Regions from separate parts of the Homo sapiens genome. Here region 2 is linked to region 1. The links come from fine-mapping of genetic effects on gene expression. A gene starts in region 1. The other region holds a variant in brackets. All regions are shown on one strand. Distances are from middle to middle. Region 1 holds the start of GRTP1 (growth hormone regulated TBC protein 1). Region 2 holds the start of LOC112268113 (a long non-coding RNA gene).

The links. PIP is the estimated chance that this variant, and not a neighbour inherited with it, causes the effect.
Region 2: its variant is the best candidate, but not a certain one, in a credible set for the expression of GRTP1 in esophagus muscle (GTEx, PIP 0.55).

What each region holds. Positions count from the first base shown.
Region 1 is chr13:113,359,305-113,369,512 of GRCh38, forward strand. It overlaps GRTP1 (growth hormone regulated TBC protein 1), which reads right to left and starts at 4,826. Exons shown (of 8, transcript NM_024719.4): 1 at 4,716-4,826; 2 at 4,458-4,606. The coding sequence starts at 4,747. GRTP1-AS1 (GRTP1 antisense RNA 1) reads left to right here. Exons shown (of 2, transcript NR_120385.1): 2 at 2,255-2,564. RefSeq lists a silencer at 4,410-4,704 and enhancers at 5,692-6,385, 6,386-7,079, 7,774-8,467.
Region 2 is chr13:114,333,526-114,343,733 of GRCh38, forward strand. It overlaps LOC112268113 (a long non-coding RNA gene), which reads left to right and starts at 4,822. Exons shown (of 3, transcript XR_007063890.1): 1 at 4,822-5,472; 2 at 9,396-9,521. LINC01054 (long intergenic non-protein coding RNA 1054) reads right to left here and starts at 423. Exons shown (of 3, transcript NR_126391.1): 1 at 310-423. The variant T/A (reference allele first, on the strand shown) is at 4,669.

The sequences.
Region 1 (10,208 bases):
AAATTCACAGAACCATATACTGTTAAGAGTGAATTTTACTGTAAATTGTTAAAATTATTTGATAGGCCAGGTGCAGTGGCTCATGCCTGTAATCCCAGGAGACTCCATCTCTACAAAAAAACCCTTAAAAATTAGCTGGGCATGGTGGTGCACACCTGTAGTCCCAGCTACTCTGGAGGCTGAGGCGGGAGGATTGCTCCTCTAGGCTGCAGTGAGCTATGATCGTCCCACTGTCCTCCTGCCTGGGTGACAGAGCAAGACCCTGTCTCGATAATAACAATAATATCAAGGTTGTATTTAAGAGAAAGGTCGAAATGGCTAAATGCACCAGCTCTGGAGTCAGACACTCTGCTCCGCTATGACTTGCAGGCTCCAGACCCTGAGCGTGCCTTGGTTTCCTCATCGTAAAGTGAACAGAAGGCACCGAGCCTGCACCCAAGGCCCCCGAGCAGCTCTGGCAGTTGGAGCAACACCCGGAAGCTTCACGGAACAAAGAATTCTGCGACTTTTTGATAAGTTTGTTATCTGGATTTACACTGTTTCTTTATAGAAGAAAGAAAATTGTTTACTTGTCCTCACAGACTGACACTTTCCCAAGGGCAGGGCTAACGCACAGAGCATCACTAATGTTTGGAGAAGTATAAAATATCAAGTCAAAACAGTTGGGAAATTTTTAAAAAGAAGCTACATCCAGAGAACTGACGTCCATCTGTCTACCCTGACAAAGTTAGGCAAATCCCCAGTTTTTCGGTGTATCTTTGAAAATATGTTTTCTCGATTTAACTTAGGTGGTGTTAATATTCTAAGCCACCAGGAAGGAGGTCTCAAAGAAGCCAACGGCCCTGAAGCTGCTTCCCTGCAGACGTCTATTCTCGAGATGGAGAATGAAATAGGAATCCAACAGGACTAAGTTTGTTGAATTTAGTCTTTCCAGGGAGGAAGAGGAAGCTGTCTTCCTAAGGGCTCCTGGTGGATATTTGCTATGGAAAAAGGAAAATACAATATTTATTGTACCCACCAAGAGTGTGATCAGGCAGAATACATAATAACTGTCCCTTAAGACATGTGGAATGCTGAGATTGGTAGATGATTGTGTTCCTGGAGACTTTAACATGGGGAGTGCAGATGAAAACCCTCCAAAAGGAGAGGAAAGAACTCTATCACTGTCAGCCTGGAATACCTGGCAGGAAGAAGTGGTATTCCCATTTTTGGAATAACTCGTCCACTCCAGTTTTATACCCGACCCTCTGCTCTTGGGGCTTTGCCAGTGCTCATGGGCACCCTGACGGTCACACTGGGACCCAGGCCCCAGGCCAGTAGAGACACGCGATCACTGACTCCATGTGCCTCCCACCGGAGTCACCAGCATCCCTACTCCCTGCAGAACAGGCCCACAGCCCTGTGGCTCCCACCCCTCAGGCTGAGGCTCATATAGGATCAAAGAGATATATTTGCTCACAGACCCATTTATGCCAGTGATGCTTGCTACCATAATTACATGGTCCACTTAACATTACATAAATTAGCCCAGCATGGTGGCTCACGCCTGTCATCCCAGCATTTTGGGAGGCTGAGGTGGGCGGATCACTGGAGCTCAGGAGTTCGAGACCAGCCTGGCCAACAAGGCAAAACCCATCTCTCCTAAAAACACAAAAATTAGCCGGGCATGGTGGCGAGTGCCTGTAATCCCAGTTACTCAGGAGGCTGAGGCAGGAGAATTGCTTGAACCTGGGAGGCAGAGGTTGCAGTGAGCCGAGATTGCGCCACTACCCTCCAGCCAGGCTGACAGAGCTAGACTTTGACTCAAAAAAAAAAAAAAAAAAAAAATTAAAGCAAAAAGAAGAAAGTTGTTACTTCAATAAAAACAAAATGAAATTTTTAGAAAGAGTTGATAGAGACCAATGCTAAAAAAAAAAAAAAAAAAAAGCAAAAACAAAACTGTTGACTTAGGTGTAAAATAATTGCAAAGGAGTGGGGAAAAGAATAAAAATCTGGAGGATTTTGCATCCGGATTGCTCTTTTCCTTTTCCCTGCTCTTCCCAGAACCCCCTCCCAAGTCCATATTGGAAAGTGGGGGCAATGTGCTGAGTGGTTCCCTAAAAAGGAAAATATGGAACCCAAGTTAGCAGCTCCTGGTCGAAGAAAAGGACAGCAATAGGACAGACCCAAATGGCAAAGGCAAAGACGGGAGAATGACTGTGCAGTTGTGTTTTCTGTAAAAACAAAAATTTATGCACAACCATACATCTTTCAGATTCTCCGCTGTAACCAACCTCCAGGTCACAGCCACAGGACTTCCCACGGACTTCCCCTGCTCTTAAAGCAAACTGCAGAACCAAGCGTGGACTTCTGCTCCTGAGGGGGACGGAAGGACAGTCCCCTGCGGTCATCTCTATAGGAGATGGGGGCCATGGGTGGGAGAGAAACTCCCTGTTGCACTTTGTAGCCCTCAGTATGATTAAAGTGTTTACCATGTACATAAATTATGCTTTTTAAGTTCACATGTCTTATATACTTTTACGTTACTTTTTAAAATTAAAAGACAGTTAACTTTTAAGAATAAATCAGGCGCAGTGGCTCATGCCTGTAATCCCAGCATTTTGGGAGGCCAACGTGGGCAGATCCCTTGAGGTCAGGAGTTTGAGACCAGCCTGGCCAATATGGTAAAACCCATCTCTACTAAAAAATAGAAAAATTAGCCTGGCGTGGTGGTAGGTGCCTGTAATCCCAGCTACTTGGGAGGCTGAGGCAGGAAAATCGCTTGAACCCAGGAGGCAGAGGTTGCAATGAGCTGAAATCATGCCACTGCACTCTAGCCTGGGCGACAGAGTGAGACTCCGTCTCAAAATAAAAAAAATAAGAAAATAAAAAATAAATTAGCCAGGTGTAGTGGTGTGCACCTGTAATCCCAGCTACTCAGGAGGCTGAGGCAGGAGAATCACTTGAACCCAGGAGGTGGAGGTTGCAGTCAGCTGAGATCGCACCACTGCACTCCAGCCTGGGCGACAGAGTGAGACTCTGTCTCAAAAATAAATAAATCAAAAAGAATAAATGAAAAGGAAAAATAAAGACACACGTTCCACTGGAAACATGTGAACATGCAGAGGCCACAGGGATGGGACATGATGCATTCGTGGGAAGCATATAGGATATTAACTTCCATCTCTATAAAAAATTTAAAAATTAGCCAGGAGTGGTGGCCACACCAGTGGTCCCAGCTATGCGGGAGGCTGAGAGGGGAGGATGGCTGGAGCCCAGGAGGTCAAGGCTACAGTGAGTGGTGATTGTGCCACTGCACTCAGAGGGATACCCTGTCTCAAATAAATAAATAAAAGCAAAAGTTGATCTTGTCACCCCCTGCCTGGAAAACCTTTAACAGTTGGCTTCTCTGTGCCTGGCCGTGGTCACCACACACCTCCGACCCTCCGCCCAGGTGCAGGGCCCCTGGTTTCATCTCTGTCCTTCCCCACCAGGTCCCTACTGCTCGGTCCCTGGAAGCCCAGCTGCCATTCACATCCCCCTTCTCAGGAAGCCCCCAGGACTCCCCTTTGACCCCACTTCTCTGAGTTCCTAGCTCCAGGGCACACTCCCACCAAGCCCTCACCCCAGGCAGACACTTCATTCATTCACTGAACACACAGGGAAGTCGCCTGGCACTGCCCCAGGTTCTGAGGACTGAGCAGTGAATGAAAAATCCGTTGCAGGGAGGAAGGGTTTTTGACTCCAGCAGGGGCTGTGCTGGGAAAGGCAGAAATGAGGAGGTGCCCTCCGCACAGGGAAGCCTGGGGCGCCCCGGAGGAGGGGGCCCTGCAGCTAACCCCGAGGCGGGCGGGCGGTCAGGCCGGTGCTCACCGCAGCAGTAGGAGGCCTGGGGTCGCGGAGGAGCGGCAGGTCGAGCAGGGCCCTGTGGGTCCCGTCACAAGGACGGAGTCTCGCTCTGTCGCCCAGGCTGGAGTGCAATGGCGCAATCTCGGCTCACTGCAACCTCCGCCTACTGGGTTCAAGCGATTCTCCTGCCTCAGCCTCCAGAGTAGCTGGGACTACAGGCAGGAGCCACCACGCCCGGCTAATTTTGTATTTTTAGTAGAGACGGGGTTTCACCATGTTGGTCAGGCTGGTCTCAAACTCCTGACCTCGTGATCCGCCCGCCTCGGCCTCCCAAAGCGCTGGGATTACAGGCGTGAGCCACCGCGCCCGGCATGGATCGAGTTTTGATCCATCCCGATATGGCTCCCTGCTGGGAGGGACGGGTCTCCTTCGCGTCCGACCCGCCGGCCCATCTCAAAGCGGGAAAACCGGTCCCTGCGGCTGCCCTAGCTCGGAGCCCGCAGCTTCGTCCCGACCTGCCCGGAAAGGTTCCTCCCCCTCCCTCCGCTCCGGGAGCCCGGACTTTGCCCGGCCCGTCCCAGCCCAACCCACCTGCGCCCTCGGGACCCACCTGCGCCCCCGGGACCCACCTGTCCGGCTCCTGGGGACGCCCCCGCCCTGCAGCAGCCGGGACCATTTGATCGCCCTGCGGGTGAGCGTGACCAGGTAGCTGGAGAAAAACTTCTCGTAGGCGGCGTCGTCGAAGTCCTCAGGCCGCTCGAATCCGTACGGGTCGATCCTGCAAAACCGAGAGAAGGAGGCCGGCGTCCCCGAAGTTTCCTCTGGGGGGTCGCGGGCCCGCGCGGGGACCGCAGCCGCCGGGGACGCCCGCACCCCGCGCCACACACCTGGGGACCCGCGAGCGCTCGGCGGGCTGCATGCGGGGAGGGAGGCGCGCACCGAGCGAGGCCAGCGGGTCCCAAGTTCGCCTCCCGGCTCCGGGGCGCTTAAGTCCTTCCGGCGGGACCGCGGGCGCGTGGGGGCGGGGCGGGGAGCGGAGAGGGGCGGGGCTGGAGGCGGGGGCGGGGGGGGGCAGGGCGGGGGGAGGGGCGGCTGGGGGCGGGGAGGACTTGGGGAGAGAGGAGGGGCAGGAGCGGGGGAGGGGCAGGGGAGCACCCAGGGCGGGGGAGGGGCGGGGCTGGGGGCGGGAGGACCTGGGGAGAGAGGAGGGGCAGGAGCGGGTGAGGGGCGGGGGAGGGCCGGGGGAGGGGCAGGGGAGCACCCAGGGCGGGGGAGGGGCGGGGCTGGGGGGGCGGGAGGACTTGGGGAGAGAGGAGGGTGGGGGCGGGGCGGGGCCTGCTCCCGGGGCTTCCGAGGCCGCGGCGTCCCGCGGGCAGAATCGGGGGCGCCTCCCGCAGAACCCCCGCGGCCTGGACCCGGGTGAGAGGAGCTTCTTCTGCGATTCCTTCAAACCTCAGTGCCTGGCCGACCCGACTCTGACACCTGACTCCTATTTTTATTTTATTTTTTATTTTCTCCGCTGCATTTCAAGGCCGAGACCAACACACAAATGAGAAGCCCCCAGGGGCGCCCGCCCGTTCCTGCCCCCCCAAACCAGGGACCGGGGTCCCCCCACCGGCGAGCCAGGCCTGGGAGAATCCGGGGCAGCTCTGGTTCCGAACGGCTTCTTCTCGGTCCGCATCCAATGACATTGTCCTGAGATTTCAGCTGCTTTTCGTGTCCGGGAGGCCCCGGAAATTTGCCAGAACTGCAGATTTTGAATTTTGCTCTGGCGACGTGGCAAAGGGGAGCCCCCAGACGTGAGGCGCTGGGGCGACCTCGCCCTGGGTCCCCCAGGGGTCTGGAGCGGGGGCTCCTCCGACAGGCCTCTCCCCGCCTGTAATTTAGGCCCAGGGCGACCTGGACAGGCCCCAGGAGGAGGCCGTCCCCGGACTCCAGACGCACTTTCCTGTGAGAAGCAGCCCGGCCTCGTCTGGGTGAGGCGAGGATCACAGGCTCAGCGTCCCCTGCGCGTCCGTCAGGGCCTTTCGGAACCAACTTGGGACCTTCCCATGGGTGTTTCCGGAATGTTCCATGCGAGCGCCACCCAGGAGCCTGGTCAGCAGCGTGTGGAACGGACCGGTCCCTAAGTGCGGACTCCCGCCTCTGCCTTTCACCCTTCTCCAGCCCTTGCAAGACCGGGGGGCGGGGTGGGGGTCAGTGCCCAGCGGAGCAGAGCCCCCGACACGGTTCCTCCCGTTCCTAGTCTGCTGGTTCTGGGAACTCCCCAAGCTTTCAGCCCAGCTCCTCAGCACTGGCCTTTGGTAACACGCGGCGTCCCTCATTTGAAAGATCACACAGCCCCCACTCTACGGTCTGACCTCCTTGGGATGTTTAGACCCAAGCCAGGAGACAGGGCCATAGCCTCCTGCCCCTCGGCCTACGGGTGCCCCACAGTCCAGGACTGACAGGTGGGCGTCCGTCCCCAGGGTCTTCGAACCCCGTCTGGGCTCCTCTCTGCCTAAGTCAGTGACTCCCTGAACCCCTCTCGGGCTCTAACTGACGCCCGAATTTCCTATATCGCATCCCTCGCGCTTTCTGGAGCAACAGACACAGTCCTGCTCCCCACTTCCCAGCACCCGGGGTCCTGCGCCCAAATCGCCCCACACCGCGCAGCTTCTGTTCCAACCCCAGGCCTGGAAGCCTCACGGCTCCCCTTTTCCCTAATTCCTGCCTTCTGGCCATGGAGATGGGGTTCTAACCTCCCTTTCCCACCACTGCCGTGGAAAGCAGCGTGGCAGGCAGCACGGACCAGGGGCCGCCAGCTCCCGAGCCTGAGTGTGATGGCGGGACTGCCACCAAGTGTATTTTTGGGCCAGATGTAGGGAGACTGTGGGGGAGCAGGTCAGATAAGAGCGGTGCCCTCCAGGAAGAGTGGAGAGGAGAGATACAGAGAGGCCAGAGCCCCAGGCTCTGTGCAGGGTGGGCAGCCAGACCGAGGCAGCTAGAAAGGTCTCCCGCTCCAGCCCAGGCCTGGCCAAGCCCCAACCTGGGACCTGACTGGGAGACAGCAGCTCCTATCTGGAACAGCTCCCACCTGGGACAGCTCCCACCTGGGACTGTGTCCCTCAGGTGCCTCCATTCACCGCCCCCCCGACCCCAGTGCCAAGCACCCAGCAGGCACCCGAGCATCCTCACACAAACTCCCTTTCTGTGAAGCCACCAGCACAGTCAGCCATGATGCAAAAGCCAGGTGCACACCCACCCCAGGAGTGACTGTGCTGGCCACAGCCGCTCCAGACAGCCCTTTCCGGGGGAGGCTTTGCAGTGCTGGAGCTCTGGGTCAGCTTGCCCTGCAGTTCAGGGACTCAGAATTCACCCTCCCCCGGGGGACCCAGCTCCCTTGCAGGAGGCCCTCTTCAGTCTGAGGGGCCTCAGGGGCCACACCAGGGGGCCTCTGTGGGGTCACCACCCATGATGCCCCTCCTCCCTTCAGGAATTCAGCCGTCTTGTTGCTTTTTTTTTTTTTTTTTTTTGAGTCGGAGTTTCACTCTTGTTGCCCAGGCTGGAGTGCAATAGCTCAATCTCGGCTCACTGCAACCTCCGCCTCCTGGGTTCAAGCGATTCTCCTGCCTCAGCATCCCAAGTAGCTGGGATTACAGGCATGCGCCACTACGCCCAACTAATTTTGTATTTTTAGTAGAGACGGGGGTTTCTCCATGTTGGCCAGGCTGTTTTCGAACTCCCGACCTCAGGTGATCCGCCCACCTTGGCCTCCCAAAGTGCTGGGATTACAGGCGCGAGCCACTGTGCCTGGCCCTTGTTGCTTTTTTTGTAGAAGCTGCTGCCCTTTGGAAGTTAGAAGGGCTTCAGGAGTACTTCAGTTCTGGGGTGCCCATCAAGATAGAAGGAACGTCTAGCATCCCCAAGGCCGGGAGGACCTGAGAAAATGGGATGTGAGTACAGAGGACAAAGATAACGGCAGCAGAACCCACCGAGCAGTGATGAACCATGACGTGGGCATCTTCGTGGAGCCACAGCATGTGCCAAACCCCACGGAGCTCCAGGCTGTCCTGGAGGCTGAAGCCAGTCAATTGACCACATGCTGCCTGGTTACAGGAGACGGGCAACTGGGAGTGGGGAGGGTCACCCAAATCTCACTGCAGGAAATTCCAGTGCAGTGCGACTCTAGCCCTGAGGGGAGGACAGGTCTTGCCAGAGACCTGTGGGTCCTGGTGCTGCAGAGCTGGCTGGGGACTGGGACGCTGCATTTCCAACCTGCTAGCAGGAGGCCCTGCTCTGGCCCATGGACCGCATTGTGCAGCCAGGCTGTGGAACCCGTGGCCTGATTTTCAGCAGAGGGCTGGAGACAGAAATCGGCGGCGAGGGGGCAATGTTATAGGTGGAAAGGGTGTGTTAATATTTCAGGGAGAGTCAAGCCCTCATCTGAGGTGTGTGTGTATATACATACATAATAATATATAACAGTAATGATTATTTTTAAGGAAAATTGACAGATAAGCTTTACCTGAGCCCTATGATCCTGGGAGGTTAGGAAGTCCCCCCCTTTATGTTCTGGAAACAGCTCAGAACCCTGTCCCCAGGTGACAAAGATGAGATTCATGATGTCCCTTATTTACCTGTGACAAGGCTGGACACATCCTCCAAAGTCCTGTCTTTTGCCTCATAAATATGTAACTGAACTGTTGTTCTAATTGGAACCAAATACACTGGTGACCAGTTCTGGTTAAGTCTCCTCCAGGGCCCTGACCGTGGGCCCAGTGACCAGTTCTGGTTAAGTCTCCTCCAGGGCCCTGACCATGGGCCCAGTGACCAGTTCTGGTTAAGTCTCTACCAGGGCCTTGACTGCGTGCCCAGCCTCAGCCTGGGCAGGGGTTCAGATGCAGCTTTCTCGCATTGCTGCCTGGTCAACAGGCCCCCCACCCCCCCTCCCCACACCTGCTGCTCCACTGCACACAAGAAAACCGCGTTTTGCCCAACTCTTGAGACCTCACCGGTCTGACACACTTGCAATCATCCTTTCAGAAACAGTACCAAGTCTAGATTTTTTAAAACGCTCTCAATTTATTTATTTATTGCTCCTGGCAACCACTCTTCTACTTTCTGCTTCTACGCATTGGAGATTTGCTTTTTTTTTTTTTTTTTTCTGGTTTGTGACAGGGTCTTTTTCTGTCACCCAGGCTGGAGTGCAGTGGTGTGAACTTGGCTCACTGCAGCCTGGAACTTCCGGGCTCAAGTGATCCTTCTACCTCAGCCTCCTGAGTAGCTAGGACCACAGGCATGTGCCACCACACCTGGCTAATTTTTTAGTTTTTGTAGAGATGGGGGTCTTGCTATGTTGCCTAGGTGGTGTCAAATTCCTGGGCTCAAGCAGTCCTCCTGCCCCGGCCTCCCGAAGCACTGGGGTTACCGGCATGAACCACTGTGCATGGCCCTGATTTGTTTTTTATTTGACAAAAGAGAAGAGTACTTATGGGTAAAATGATATGAAGTCTGGAGTTGGCTTTAAAAATACTCCAGCACGCAGGGTACAGTGGCTCACACCTGTAATCCCAGCACTTTGGGAAGCCGAGGTGGGAGGATCACTTGAGGTCAGGAGTTTGAGGCCAGCCTGGCCAACATGGTGAAACCCCTTCTCTACTGTAAACACAAAAATTAGCCGGGCGTGGTGGTGGGTGCCTGTAATCCCAGCTACTCGAGAGGCTGAGGCAGGAGGATCGAAAGTTCAGGAGGTGGAGGTTGCAGTGAACCCAGATCACACCACTGCACTCCAGCCTGGGCAACAGAGTGAGACTCTGTCTCAAAAAAAAAACAACAAAAACCTCCAGCAAAGAAAAAAAAAGCAGAGGGTAGATTAAAAATAAAAAAAAAGCAACAAGATGGAACTCTTTGAAGATGACTGACTGAGGAGATTTTTGTGTCTGTTTGATAATTTGCTTTAAACGGTGAGGAGGGATGCCCCCTTCTTCTGGGGCCTGCCCTGCTGCGTTGACCATGGCAGCGTCAACAAGCTCAGGCCATGGTGAGTCCTAGCTTCTGGGCCAGAGGCCACCCTCCTCTGGAGCTGGGGCTGCAGGACTTCGTGTGCGAAGCATCACCTGACTCCCCCGACCCACAGACCCTCCTGCCTGAAAGCAAGCAGGGGTGCATGCAGGGAGGTGGGGAGACAAGCGCCCAGTCTGCAGATCCAGCGGCGCAGGCCGGCTCTGGGCCGTCCCTTTGCGCCTCCCGCCTTCCCTTTGCCCTGTGTTGGAGGCCTGAGCCAGAGCGTGCGGACCTGATCTTGCTGGGACGAGGGTGATGAGCGGCTGTCCAGGAGAAGCGGGCTGTGGCCACGCCGCGTGGGGAAGGCCCAGACGTCGAGTGGGCCTGGGCAGAGT
Region 2 (10,208 bases), 970 kb after region 1:
TATTGAGTTCCCTTCAAAATGAATTTCAAAGTTCTTCTACACTAAAGCACATTATTGTGAAATTTGATAACATCAGAGAAAAAGATCTGAAAAGCTTCCAGAGAAGTGAAAGAAAAAGATCACCTGCAAAGAATCAAGAACCAAAATGGCACTGAAGTTTTTCATTGAAATTTTAGATATAATAAGAAAATGAAATTTGGCCTTCACATTCTGAGAGAAATACATATATTTTAAACCCTACTAAGCCGCCAACCCAGTGTGAGAATAGTGCTCAGGCATTTTGGGACATGCACAGCATCAAAGCTTTACCTTCGATTAGGAAGCTACAGTAAAGTGGCAACCTAAGAAATGGGAGAATGAATTCCAGGAGCAGGTGATCCATGCAGGAGAGAGGAGCAGCATTGCCGAGAGCCAGGGGTGAAGCAATTCAAGCTGGAGACACTGAGACAAACACAGGGGCGCCTGGCATTCTCTCAGAGGCAGTACAGTGGTTCTCACAACTCAGTAAATGTGGTAATTATCTCTTATCTGGTTACAATGCATCTTCCCAGGCCTGCCAGCAGGGATTCTAAATCCTGATGCAAATGATGTGGCAGCACTTGTGGTTATAGACATGAGTGTTTGAATCACAGATCCAGGTCCAAACCCAAATCCCCTCAGTAATTAACTGTATGCTGTCATTCAATTACTTAATCTCTCCAGCACGCCACTTCCTCAGGCCAATTCATATGGGAATATAAATTCATAGGAGTGTTATAAAGGGTAGTTTGTACAATGAGCTCGTGACTATGAAATGCTTAGCATGGCATCCAAAAAGTCCTCAGTAAGTGGTGCAACAATACCTTTTTATTACAGAAAACACACTCAACCTAGAAAACAGTGTTCATAGGGGATTCAGAGAAGTAAGTACAGTTGGGTGAGCAGAGCAAGCCAGCGTGGAGAGGGTCTTTCCTAGGTGAGGCCTCTACCACATTTGAAAGTGGGATGCAGGGCAAGAGCTCAACATCAACCAGGACGGGCAGGAATGAAGTAAATAGCTCACACCTGTTCCTTCATGGGTCAGTTCCTTTCATTTTCACTTTTGACTCTGATGCAAAATTAGAACTCTGCTCAAATGTCACTATTCTTAATAAAGTAAAGTAAATAAGTAGGATCCAAAAACTTCAATTGCATAAAATACGTGCTCTTATGACAAGGCAAATGGGAAATATTTTGCAGTTGGTCATTGCCATCACAATAACACAAATTCTAAAACTTATACTGTTTACAACTGAACCACACCCTCAAATAATCAAAAAATGGTCCCTCCCTAAACTCTCTCCCCAGGAAGAGAAAGTCTTTGGCTGCCCCAACCTGAGCAGGAAAGCAGGTGGAGAGGGGGAGCCCACAGCTACAGTGGCAAGAAGTCTGAGGGCTGAGGGCTTTGACCAAATAATAGGGAATTGGGTTGAGTTGTTTGAATCATTTTCCAATAACTGACGTATAAAATAGATTCATTGAAGGAGCTGGGGAATGGGAGCCCACCCCTCAGTCTCCAGCCTCCCCTCAGTCTCCAGCCCCCCCAAACTACATGTTTCTCCAGAGTAACCTTGAGCCTCTCCCAGCATGGATTAAAACCCATGGCTCTTCCAGATCTAAAATCTGAGGCTCTACAATTTAAGTCATAGTTAGGCACTTCCATACCTGTGATGGTAACATTCTTACATACTCAGTCTATCATTGTTTAATATTGAATGAAAGACACACATTTTGTTTACTTATTATGCAGCAGCTAGTCTGTGTTCACCTGCGTTGTCTCAGGGTCAGCTCTTTATTTCCAAGAATCCTGTCCCATTTCCTGGAGCCTATTGACCGGGGGAAAGATGTGGTCAAAAGTTAAAGGTATGTTGGGCAAAGCCTTAGAAACAGCTTTTCTGACAAGCAATGGGGAAAAGACCCCGTTCAATAAATGGTGCTGGGAGCTGGGCCCCTTTCTTACACCATACACAAAAATGAACTCAGGATGGATTAAAGACTTAAGTGTAAAACCCAAAAATATAAAAACCCTGGAAGACAACCTAGGCAATACCATCCTGGACATAAGAACAGGCAAAGATTTCGTGACAAAGACACCAAAAGCAATATCAACAAAAGCAAAAATTGACGAGTGGGATCTAATTAAACTAAAGAGCTTCTACACAGCAAAAGAAACTATCAACAAAGTAAACAGGCAACTTACAGATTGGAAGAAAGTATTTACAAACTATGCATCTGACAAAGGTCTAATATCCAGCATCTATAAGGAACTTAAACAAATTTACAAGAGAAAGACAACCCCATTAAAAAGTGGGCCAAGGACATGAAGAGACACTTCTCCAAAGAAGACAAACATGTGGGCCGGGTGTGGTGGCTTACGCCTGTAATTCCTGCACTTTGGGAGGCTGAGGCAGGTGGATCATGACATCAGGAGATTGAGACCAACCTGGCTAACATGGTGAAACCCCGTCTCTACTAAAAATACAAAAAATTAGCCGGGTGTGGTGGTGGTCGCCTGTAGTCCCAGCTACTTGGGAGGCTGAGGCAGGAGAATAGCATGAACCCAGGAGGCAGAGCTTGCAGTTAGCTGAGGTCGCGCCACTGCACTCTAGCCTGGGTGACAGAGCAAGACTCCGGCTCAAAAAAAAAAAAAAAAAAGATAAATGTGGTAAACAAGCTTATAGAAAAAAGCTCTAGATCACTGATCACTAGAGAAATGCTCATCAAAACCACAGTGAGGCACCATCTCACACCAGTTAGAATGCCTATTACTAAAAAGTAAAAAACCAACAGATGCTGGCAAGGTTACAGGGAAAAGTGAACACTTATACAATGTTGGTGGGAGTGTAAGTTAATTCAACCATGGTGGAAAGCAGTATGGTGATTCCTCAAAGAGCTAAAAGCAGAACTACCATTCGACCTAGCAATCCCATTACTGGATATATACCCAGATGAATATAAATAATTCTACCATGAAGATACATGCATGCAAATATTCATTGCAGCACTATTCACAATAGCAAAGACATAGAATCAACCCAAATGCCCATCAATCATGGACTGGATAAAGAAAATGTGCTACATATACACCATGGAATACTATGCAGCCATAAAAAAGAACAAGATTATGTCTTTTGCATTAGTATGGATGAAGCTGAAGGATATTATCCTTAGCAAACTAATGCAGGAACAGAAAACCAAATACAGCATGTTCTCACTTATAAATGGGAGCTAAATGATAAGAACTTGTGAACACAAAGAAGGAAACAAAAGACACTGGGGTCTACTTGAGGGGGGAGGGTGGGAGGAGGGAGGGGAGCAGAAAAGATAACTATTGGGCACTGGGCTTAATACCTGGATGATGAAATAACATGTACAACAAATCCCTGTGACACGTGTTTACCTGTATAACAAACCCTCCCATATACCCCCCAACCTAAAATAAAAGTTAAAAAAAAAAAAAAGGAACACAGCTTTTTATTTTTTTCTCTTTAATACCATAAAGGTCATGGGCCATTTGCCACCTGAACAGTCAGTAACACATGAGTGTAAAGAAACTGAACACCCAGGGACACCAGAGACCGTTCACTGTAGAGGAAGGAGGCAGGTATAACTCATAAGGTGAACTTCCTCCAGTCCCAAAGTGGTTCCCCTCTCCTTAAATGCGGGTCCCATGGAATTCAGATTTAGAAGTGAAGCAAATGAGAATAGCTCACAGGGGAGCAGTTCAAATGTGCCGAAAAGGATAGAGCAGCCCCAATAAGGAAGGAAGGCCAGACAAGCAATGGATTTGTAGGGAAGACAATGTGCACCCATCAGAGCTCTGATTCCTTCACTTCCACTACCCTGCCCTGCCCACTAACTTTGAAAAAATATGGATGGCAAGTGTTGGGCCGTAAGACATTTCCTTGCTTTATAATCTGGATTTAGTGGGTTAAATTTCAGAGATAGTGAAAACATCCCCCTTTAGTTAACTTTTAATTTCATAATTGTACCTTTTTTTTTTTTTTTTACAGATATTTGAACATGTAAAACAAAGAAAAGAGTACGGAAGTAATTTATAATCAACAAATATGTGTTCACTGAGTAAGTGATACTGACATGGCATATGGCATACAAGCATCCTGAGAGTAGGATCATGGGGCATTCAATGGTGATTGTCCCTAGAGCTGGTTAGGGCCCAGCTTTCCACTGTCCTTGTACTGCTGCGTGTACAATCGGTGTCTTCTTTAACTTCACAGAGATGCCACAAGGCAAATAGCATTGTCTTCACTTTCTGTGTAAGAAAACTAAGGCTCGGTGAGAGTATGCAGAGCTGGTTCATGGATTTGTTTGGGTCCTTCTAGTTTCAAAACCCGTGAATATTTTCCTGTCTCTAATGCTAATCTTAGCAATATATTTGGAATAAGCATATAAACATATAACCACAGTCCACTCAGGTAATAGGCAACTAAATTATAAATAAATGCTCAACGAGATTATGAGTGATTGAATGAGCTATATACAAGAATAATAACTGGTGGAAGTGTTATTCATAGGATAAAGTAGAAATCATTTAAATGGCTAATAGTATAAGGAGGGTTAAATCAAGCAGGTGTGGAAATAGCTGATTTACATATATAGTTTATGCCATGTAAAACGTTTATAATCTAA[T/A]ATTGGATGAAAAACAGATACAATATTTTATGTACAGTATAATCTAAAATTTCTATGTTTAGTTAAAAATGCAGGAATATAATTATCAAAATTTGAGTGATAAAATTATGAATAATTTTTTTCTTTGATAACTCATTTTATATTTACCAAAGATCCTCCAAAGAGATTATACACTTTTTTTAACTAGAAAAAAGTTATTTGTTAAAGAGATCATAAATGACATAATATTTTACAGAAGTTAAGAGCTGAGATTGTGAGAATTTCCAGGGACTCCTGCCATCAGCCCACCTCGCATCATTGTTTACATGGAAATGTTGGGACTGAGGTGACCTCATGCCTCTCAATTCCCAGCCAGCCTTCTCTCCCTCTGGCTCTTAGCTAGCCTGTTAAACAGAAAATAATCAGTGAGACGAATAAACTACACCCTAGTGTTCTAACAAGTTACACATAATTGCTTGCTTACCAATTGTCTACCTCAGAACTTTCTTTTCCTCATAGAGTCAACATAATCATCTATTTTAAATTCGGCTTTTGCCATTTTACAGTCCAAGATGCTGGACTTTGCATAGGGCATGGATGGGTTTCCACAGTCCACACGAGGATGGGAGGAGAACAGGGCAGATCCAGCCCCACTCAGTGAGAGTTCTGGCTGGAGTTAGTTGGCTGGACTTCACTCCAGAGAGAGACCTTCCTCTGTACCAGCTACCAAGACAGCCCCTAGTTGGAAAATCTTTTCTTCTAAGGTGAGATGCAGCCCCCACTGGAGAGAAAAACACCAGAGAGTTTTAAAAAGGAAAAACCAAGGTAAGCTGAGGGGCTTCTTGACAGGGGACACAGCAGAGTCCACCCAGCTGGGGTGAATCTCCGCAGTTCCCCAACAGGACAGCGGGTGGGAGCCCCAAGTCACTGGCCCCTGCAGTGTTGGAGCAGCGTGAGCCACCTGTAGTCACATTGTCTCCTCTGGCAGCAGCCTCCATCCAGAAATGCATCTCAGGGTCTGTCGTCACAGGAACCTGATGCCAGAGCAGTGCGCTCAAAGTATTTGGCCACAGGTATTTTGTGGAACTGAGCATTTTCCACATCTTGCTGGAGGTCATTGTGTGTGAACTTGATGGAGCTCTTTCTCCTGGGCTTTTTTTCTAAGTGTGGGAGAGCATGGCCTGCATGACTGCTGGCTTCCAGCACGTGTCGTGCAAACCCATGCCAGGGTGTGTAATTCACTGTAGCCCTTGACAGAATAGCAGGGGATAAAGCTCATTTTTTAATCTTCTGTTTATTACCCTCAGCCAATTAACTTCTATCTACAGTAGAAGATATTTTGCCAATTTTTTTTCAAAATGGAGAAGTACCGTGCTCTTTAAAAAGTCTTTTAGAGGCACAGACTTCTCAATTTCATTACATTAAAATCACTAAAAGATAGAAAAAAGTGAAATTCACGTATCAAAGAAATTTTCTTTTAGCAAACCACTCTATTTTGTTTTGAAATGTTTGTGAATTTTCCATGCATGTGTCCAGATACATAAGGAGTTTATTCATTCAATTAAGTTAAAACATTGGATAACATGGTAAATTCAAAAAGTAGTGAGGACACGTTTTGTTTCTCTCTGTAACTGAGAAAACTGACTGATGCCTCCTGTGTGCGAGCACTGTGTAGCTGATGCAGATGTGGAAACCAAGGTTTTCTTACTTGCTGCCGCTGGCCCTGGCACTGGATGTTGGCTCCTGGAGGGCAGGGTGTCTGTTTTTATTACCACTCAGCAAGTGCCACACAAATACACATGGGTGTCTCTGCCCTCTAGTGGATCCTGGCAGGCACTGGGCGCAAATGTGACTATAAAAAAAATGAAAGATTTAAAAAATGCCCATTACCTCTAGAGGGGATTTAATTATAACACGAGGCTTTTTTTTTTCTTTTTCAAATGGGCTGATGGGTAAAAATAATGCAAGACTGGAGATGCGTTTGCCTTTCGGCATCTATGATGACTGAGTCTTTCCTCAGTGCTGCCACAGGGAGCACATTCACACATATGTCACACAAATACCAGGGTTAGGTCAAAAAACCAAGTGTTACCTGGAGGAAGCCACAGAGGCTATGAGATGAAGCCTTCACCTAGAAGACACCCGACAGTTCAGAAACCGAGATCCTGTGAGGTGTCTTGGAGAGCTCAGCTGTGACCCCGCACCGTATGAAAGGGTGGGCATTGGGGTTCAGGCAGGTGAAGAGAATTGTCCACTGTTGAGCATCATCAGCCTAAAACCCACATGCAGTGCTACTGCTGCAAAACCACTGACTGTTGAAGCCACAAACCGCAGAAACAGAAGCCCTTTATGGTCCTCACTGTGCAACTGGTGACTTTTCAGAAGATGAAGATTAAACATATTAATCATAAATTCAAAGTATCAGAAGAAATACTAGGAGATTTTCTAACCTCTGCTGCCATGACTTTTTTTTTTTTTGCAAGATTCGTGAATTATTGTAAATAAGCTCACAGAGGCCACAGTGCTCCCCTCAAGTCATCCAGAAAGATGCAGGCTGCTAATCCCCACATCTGACACATCTGTGTTTTCTTATGATAATACACAAATTAAAGATAGGGGAGAGAGAGAGGGACAGAAAGAGAGAGACAGAGAGAATTGGAGCTAAGAGGAAACACTTTCCTTTTTATTTTTATTTATTTTTAATTTATTTATTTTTAAGAGGAAACACTTTCATGTTTTGCCCCCCAAAATTCCCAGTGAACATTCCCATTGCCAGTGGGTGAAATCCAAGGCCCTGGCTCCAGGATCCTGCTCTTTCCTGTGGTGACTCCTGTGCAGATTTGGCCTAGAAACACTATGGAAGTTGTTACACTTCTCTGGACAAGTCATTATACTCGTGCTTTTGGCTCACAGGCTGCACTTCCCCGGACAACCCTTCGCCCTAAGCTCCAAGTAATTCAGCTTCATCCTTCAGAGAAGAGCTCAGGTGTCACTTCCTGTAAGGTCCCTCCCTAGCCGCCTCTCCAGCAGAAGGGCCCCCACCTTGCTCTTTGCACCTCTGTCCCTCGAGGTGGTGCTGTCCTCTTTGGAGGGTGGGACCCCGGGAACTAGAGCCCCTCTCATGCTGGTGACACTCGGCACTCTGTAAGTGTGTGCTGAGCGGATACAAGTGCGGCGAGCTTGCACAGCCTTACAATGTGTACTCTCATGTCTGGCATAGAGACCCATTTTCATTCTTTGTAAAATGAGTAAGTGGGGCTGGGTGACCCATACTCTCTTTTCAACTCAGAAGTCCACTATGAGCCTGACGTCAGATAGCTTCCCAGCCAGTGCCAGAGCAGGACCCAGGTTTTTCAATGTGTCTGTGTCCCCACAGCACGGGGAAAGCACGGAGGAATGGGACCAGCTCTGCTTCCTGCTGCCCAGTGTCAGCCAGCAACTCCAGGCTCACAAAGCCAAGGCAAAGGCACCTGCAGGAGATCTTGGTTATTTAGTAGCTGTGATTGGGCTGGGAGGAGAGTGTGTTCACTTCTGATTTTCCAGTGAATAGCATGAGACAGTAAGGTTTGAAATGTGTTTTTTTTCTCTTGCCAAAAACGAAAACAAAAAAGGCTTTTTACCTTCTCATCCTTGGAGCCACTGGCATTAGCTATGGGCCTGATAGTTTAAGAAAACTTGAAAATGAACTAGGTGAACCAGTATTCTCCAAATTAATATTTTGATAAATTGTGGAGTTCTGTATTGCAGCAAAGCTGTTGCTTAAGTGGGCAAAACTCTAGAGGATAGGAAAACACACTCTTGAAATCAGGTGGTGATGCCCTGAAATTCAGCAAACTGCAGGGGCACGTGTTGTTCTACCCCAGGTCAGAGTGTGTCAGTCATCACTTGATGCCACTCACAGACCACCAACTTCAGAATATCTAGGTGTAAAGCTCTGTACAAAAGTCGTAACATAATAATGTAAATAATTTTACCTTAATAATATTATTTATATTACACCATTACATAATGTAAGGCTATTAAAACATGTTTGTCTTCAAAGAATGGCCTTGGTTTCTGTGGGCAGTGTCTCCTTATGGAAAGGTAGTGCATTCCTGCTAAGTCCTGGACAAAACGGGCCTCCAGGAGCTCCAGGCTGCAGCAGCAGCTTCTCATCTATGTCCTTCACTGCATGATGTCGTTGTTGACTTTGAAAGCTCCTTTCAGTCTAGTTTTATCAACAGAGCTAGTTTTTCATGAGGATCTACTACATACCAGGTTCCAGAAGGCTAAATGCCTTTTATTTGTTATTATTCACTAAATACAAATAACAGCTCTCTTCTCATTACTCACACAACAAAATTTAGCTGAGGATGGCTCTAGGAGATGCAGAAGGGGCTGCATCATAAAGAATGAAGAAGGGATTTGTCATGAGAGATGGGACAGGAAATTCTCTAGAGGCAGAGGGAGAGCATGAGAATGTTGGGAAGGGAGGAGAGATTCTCACACATCTGGGAAGCTGACAATCCATGGGCTTCCCATCTGTGTAGTTTGCCTTCTCCAGTGTCTCATTAAATGAGGTCACACTGTGTGTATTCTCAGACTGTTTTCTTCCACTTAGCAATGTGCATGCAAGATTCACTCATGTCTTTGTGTGAGTTGATAGCTTGTTCCTTTCTATGGCTAAATAGTATTCCATTATATGAATGTACCACAATTTGGTTATGCATTTTGGGGAGCAAAACCTTCCTCTTCTAACTTTGTTCCAGGATTGGAGACCTTCAAATTAACTGACAATAGATACATTAGTAGAAGAGACAATACTTGGCTTCTTGTTCCACAAGTATCATTGCGGGACAAAATTCAGCAGATGGCAGGATCCAGTTTACAAAGAGGTAAAAATAGCCCAGAAACAAGAAACAAGACTAGAATCAGATAACTCACAATGGCTATAGTTTTCCTTTAAAAAAATTTTTTTTGAGACAGGGTCTGGCTCTGTCACCCAGGCTGGAGTGCAAGGTGCAATCTCAGCTCACTGCAACCTCTACCTCCTGGGTGCAAACGATCCTCCCTCCTCAGCCTCCTGATTAGCTGGGACTACAGGCACATGCCACCATGCCCATCTAATTTTTGTACTTTTGGTAGAGACGGGGTTTCACCACGTTGCCCAGGCTGGTCTTGAACTCCTGGCCTCCCAAAGTGCTGGAATTATAGGTGTGTGCTGCCATGACCAGCCATGTTATAGTTTTCCATTGAAACATAAAATTTCTCTCTGTAGTAACCATCATTTTTGATCATAATCAAAGTAAGACTATTCTTGTTTCAAAAATAAGTCTAGTTTTATTAGATTTTGCTTGATTATTTACGTAAGTGCATCAAGAACAGGAGATGACCACGTAGGTGCTTTCAAGCTTCTTTGCTGGAAGTTTTCATACAGAATCTCAGATTTGACTTTTAAAGGCCTTATTCAGGCTAAAAGCCAAGCTAAGAACTTACTATCATATTTCAGCTGCAGTCCTTATAGCTTTGTGTGAATTCCTCTCTTCTTGAGGCCCCCAAATATCCCTAAATTCCTGGGCCTA